Regions from separate parts of the Homo sapiens genome. Here region 2 is linked to region 1. The links come from fine-mapping of genetic effects on gene expression. Tissue or cell type: whole blood. Region 1 holds a variant in brackets; the other region holds the start of a gene. All regions are shown on one strand. Distances are from middle to middle.

Region 1 (2,760 bases):
AATGCCCTACGAAATATAAAATGGAGTCTTTTTCTAAGATGGAGTTAGTTATGTCAAGGGTCCTTTATACAGTCTTCATCCTTTTTCCTGGCATACAACTCCTAAAATCCTTAGAATCTCCAAAGTGATGTCTTTTGGTGTGCTAATGAGGTAACTGATGGCTGGCAGCTCTTAGGTAGCTTCATAACAGGGGCTGGGCACAAGAAAGATCATGGCAAGGTCAGAGGATTGGGGCTTTCAGCTCCACCCTCCAAACTCCCTCTGGGAAGTGGAGAGGGGCTGAAGGTTGAATTGATCACCAATAGCCAATGACTTAATTAATCATTCCTAAGTAATAAAGCTCCCATAAAAACCCAAAAGGACAGGGTTTGGAGATCCTCCAGAGAGCCGAACACAGAGAGGTTCTTGGAGGGTAGTGCACCAGAGGGCATGGAAGCTCCAAGCCCCTTCCCACAGGTCTTGCCCTATGTACTCTTTACTTGTGTCCTTTGTAATATTCTTTATCACAAACTGATAAATGTAAATGTTTCCCTGAGTACTGAGAGCCACTCTAGCAAATTAATTGAACCCAAGATGCAGGTGGTGGGAACCCCCATTTATAACTGGTTGGTCAAAAGCACAGGTAAAACAACCTGGGGCTTCATCCTGGAGTATCAGAAGTGTCTTGTGAGACTGAGCCCTTCACTTGTGTCACCTGATGCTATTTCCAGTTAGATAGTGTTGGAATTCAATTGAATTTGAGCAGAAGTCCCAATCCCCAGACCTGTAGTTGTCAGTGACCTCTTAGGAACTGGGCTGCACAGCAGGAAGTGAGGGGCAGGTGGGGAGCAAAGCTTTATCTGTATTTACAGTAGATCCCCATGGCTCACATCACCGCCTGAGCTCCTCCTCCTATCAGATCAGCTGTGGCATTAAATTATCACAGGAGCATGAACCCTATTGTGAAGTACGCATGCAAGGGATCTAGGTTGCATTCTCCTTATGAGAATCTAATGCCTGATGACCTGGCATTGTCTCCCATCACCCTAGATGGGACTGTCTAGTTGCAAGAAAACAAGCTCGGGGCTCCCCCTGATTCTACATTATGGTAAGTTGTATAATTACTTCATTAAATATT[A/G]CACTGTAATAATAATAGAAATGAAGTGCACAATAAATGTAATGCACTTGAATCATCCTGAAACCATCCCCCACCCCCCTACCCCTGTCCGAGGAAAAATTGTCTTCCATGAAGCCAATCCCTGGTGCCAAAAATTTTGGAGACCACTGGATTAGAAGACACCCAGTTGGTGCCCACTGCTGAATTGCTTGCTTGCTTGCTTGCTTGCTTGCCAGTGGAGAGAAATCCCCACATATCTGTTGTCAGAAATGTGTTGTGAGAGCATAGTGGGAGGAACTGAGTTTGTTTTTTCTACAGTTACAGCAATAGGTAACTGGAATTCAACTGCTGGACTATACCAAAGACTGCCAGGCCAGCCTACCTTTCTCACAGCCTTCTTGACTACCTGTCTTGGATGAGCTCACTGAAAGCCCACATACCTTCATTCTAGCATTTCCTCAGTCTGGTTGAGCTGCTTTGGAGGTAATACAGGTTGTAGGACTTCCCTCCACTCCTGCTCAGGACCGTTTTCAGCAGGCTAATCAGACAGCAGTTGGCACTGAGTACAACTGGAGAAATGTTATCAGCACTGAAGACTGCTCCAGCTACAAATGCACAGCGACCCACCTCAGCTGGACCTTTGGCATTGCTTGGCAATCCTTACAACTGTTTGGAATTCTTGGTAATTCTTGTACATACAAACAGTCGGCTCCTTCTCCCATGCACCACAATGGCCATTCTCAACTCTGGTGTTCTCAAACCCCCACCACAACTGTTACCCACTCTTTCTCGACAAGTGTCTTTGACTCCTCCTTAACCAAGAAAATCAGGACCAGCAGATGTGGATGGTCACTCAACATCTGAAAATGGATTTGCATATGTACCCCCTCAGCTCCTGCCTTCAGCTCAGAGCGAGAGGTAATCCGTATCCAGTTCACAGCCAACTCCCTGTCCATGTCCCATTCCCATCTCCTCAGGACCCACACTTGCTTCTCTAGGTGTTCCGTCCCTGTTAGGCATCCAACTTCTCCCACCCTGCTGGCTTCTTCCCAAAGACCTATAACCAAGCTCGTATCTTTCACTTAAAAGAAAACAAAAACTCCCATTCTCTTGTAACTACCTTTGCAGAATTGTGTCTGAAACAGTGAGAGAGATCTAACTTAATTGACTCCATCTTGCTTCTAACCTCCAAGCTGTCTTTCCTCATTCTTGGGCATAGGCTGAACTAACTTTGGGAGAAACTTAGTTTATAGTTTGTGGTTTAAAGCAAAGATGATAACAGCCCTTTCCCAGGGCAGACCTCCTTTTTTTCTGAAGACTAGATTGTCTTTGTAGGACTAACATTAGCCACAAGATTGGAAATTATGGTTTAGGAATCATGCAGGTGGAGGCTACAAGATTCTGACCCTTCCTAAGCACTGATCCTAAGATCGGTGCTTGAGATATTTTGCAGACCCTGCACTTGATGGATCACCTGGCAACACCCAGATCAATAAACTGGCTCATCTGATCTTGTGGTGCCCACCCAGGAACTGACTCAGAACAAGAAGACAGCTTCAACTTCCTGTGATTTCATCCCTGACCAATCAACACTCCTGGCTCACTGGCTTCCCCTCCACCAACCAAGTTGTCCTTAAAAACTCTGCTCCCCGAATGCTCTGGAA
Region 2 (2,549 bases), 32 kb after region 1:
AGGTTGTTGTCCTTGGTCATGGCCCTCTCACCCTCATACACCTGGATGAAGACCCCAGGCTGGTTGTCCGAGTAGGTGGTGAAAGTCTGGGTCTGCTTGGTGGGGATAGTGGCGTTCCTCTGGATCAGCGTGGTCATCACCCCACCTGCTGTCTCCAGCCCCAGAGACAGGGGAGCCACATCCAGCAGCAGGAGATCCTGCACTTTCTCACATTTGTCCCCCATCAACACGGCCGCCTGCACAGCAGCCCCATAGGCCACAGCCTCATCAGGGTTGATGCTCTTGTTCAGCTCCTTGCCGTTGAAGAAGTCCTGCAGCAACTTCTGCACCTTGGGGATGCGTGTGGAGCCCCCCACCAGGACGACGTCATGAATCTGGGCCTTGTCCAGCTTGGCATCCCGCAGGGCCTTCTCCACCGGCTCCAGGGTGCTGCGGAAGAGGTCTGAGCACAGTTCCTCAAAGCGGGCACGAGTGATGGACGTGTAGAAGTCCACGCCCTCGAACAGGGAGTCTATCTCCAGGGTGGCCTGGGTGCTGGAGGACAGGGTGCGCTTGGCGCGCTCACAGGCTGTGCGCAGCCTGCGCAGGGCACGCTTGTTCCCGCTCAGGTCCTTCCCATGCTTCCGCCGGAATTCTTCCATGAAGTGGTTCACGAGCCGGTTGTCGAAGTCCTCTCCTCCCAGGTGGGTATCTCCAGCAGTGGCTTTCACCTCAAAGACACCAGCGTCAATGGAGAGAACCGACACATCGAAGGTGCCCCCACCCAGGTCAAAAATGAGCACGTTGCGCTCTCCCGCGCCCCGCCGGTCCAGCCCATAGGCGATGGCAGCTGCCGTGGGCTCATTGATGATCCGCAACACGTTGAGCCCCGCGATGGCCCCCGCGTCCTTGGTGGCCTGGCGCTGCGAGTCATTGAAATAGGCGGGCACGGTGATCACTGCGTGCTTCACGGGCTGGCCCAGGTACGCCTCGGCCGTCTCCTTCATCTTGCTCAGCACCATGGACGAGATCTCCTCGGGGTAGAACGTCTTGTCCTCCCCGCGGTAGCATACGCGCACCTTGGGCTTGCCGCCCTCGCTCACCACCCGGAAGGGCCAGTGCTTCATGTCCGACTGCACCGTGGTGTCCGCGAACTTGCGCCCGATCAGCCGCTTGGCATCGAACACGGTGTTGTGGGGGTTCAGGGCCGCCTGGCTCTTGGCCGCGTCCCCGACCAGCCGCTCGGTGTCGGTGAAGGCCACGTAGCTGGGCGTGGTGCGGTTGCCCTGGTCGTTGGCCAGGATCTCCACGCGGCCCTGCTGAAACACGCCCACGCACGAGTAGGTGGTGCCCAGGTCGATGCCCACCGCGAGCTCCCGTGGGGCCTGCATGGCTGAAGCTTCTTGTCGGATGCTGGAGGCCACGGAGGCTGCTGCCGCTCCGCCGTCGAGGGGCGCTCAGCAGTGAGGCTCTCCCTGCGGTTTCTCTGCAGCCAGCCCGGCTCGGATCTGCTCAGCTCCGCTTCCACCGGCTTTTTATCCTTTTGCGCCTCACCCGACCCCCGCCGCCGCGAACTTTCGCGAACCTTTCCGCACCTTCCCGCACCTTCCCGCCCAGTTGAGAGCCTCTCGCCCGCCCGGGCTGACTCAGCCGGGTGGCGCGGCGCGGCGCTGACCCCGGGAGAAGGTTCGGGCAGATCGGGGCATGAGCCGCGAGGCTGGGCGGCTACGCCAGGCCAGCCCGCCTCTGACTCAGGCTGCTGAAAGAAATGCGGGGAAGGTTCTAGCTCCTCCGGGCTGGCTCTGAGGACGCGCGGTTGTGGCAGAGGCTGCAAAAGCAGCAACTTTAGAGGCAAGGTCTCCCCGGGGCTGTGGGAGGTCGGATCCCTGAGGCACACAGGGGCCTGCGGGCTGCCTTGGAGGGCCGCTGAGAGCCCAGCGGCTCAGGAAGGCCGAAGATATGTTACCATGCGAATACAGATATATAAGATATATACACGTATATCTTAAAACAGTTTTATCTTGAACAAAATATTTTCCAAACCGCGATTTAAGACGGTGCCTGGTTCCTTAGTGAATGGCCAGAGATAGTGAGCTTTAAGAGACAATACTGCAGGTCTTTAGCTGACAGTAGCATTGGTGGTTCAGTGGTAGAATTCTCGCCTGCCACGCGGGAGGCCCGGGTTCGATTCCCGGCCAATGCACTTTCATTTTTTTCCGATCCATTTCAATTCTTTTTCTCATCTAGGATTAATCACTCTTGAATAAATTAAACCAGGTGGCTGAAGACTTTACATTCCTCCAGTTTTGTTCTCTCTCCTTTACCAGTCACTTTCCACAAAGGAGATGTGACATTGCACTGTGGCCCTGGGACTCGGGAGAGACCTCGCCACTCAGCCCAAGAGAGAACGCAACACCTGGGAAAGGAGGACGCAGAGTACGGTCGGGATGTCCCTCATGTTCTCCCCACTGTTTGTATCCCCGAGGAGCCTCGTCTCCAGAGGCCCGGTGGAGAGGCACAGTGTGCGTTTTTCTTTATGGCCTAAGTGGGTTCCCAGCTGGAGACCAGGA

What was found. PIP is the estimated chance that this variant, and not a neighbour inherited with it, causes the effect.
Region 2: HSPA6 starts here. The variant in region 1 is fine-mapped to the expression of HSPA6 in whole blood (TOPMed, PIP above 0.99).

Annotation. Positions count from the first base shown.
Region 1 is chr1:161,555,232-161,557,991 of GRCh38, reverse strand. No RefSeq gene overlaps it. Among named protein-coding and RNA genes, the nearest start is that of FCGR3A, 6.8 kb to the right of the region's middle. The variant A/G (reference allele first, on the strand shown) is at 1,118.
Region 2 is chr1:161,523,480-161,526,028 of GRCh38, reverse strand. HSPA6 (heat shock protein family A (Hsp70) member 6) reads right to left here and starts at 1,489. Exons shown (of 1, transcript NM_002155.5): 1 at 1-1,489. The coding sequence starts at 1,370. TRG-GCC2-1 (tRNA-Gly (anticodon GCC) 2-1) reads left to right here and starts at 2,112; the gene lies at 2,112-2,182. It also overlaps a transcript of FCGR2A not described here.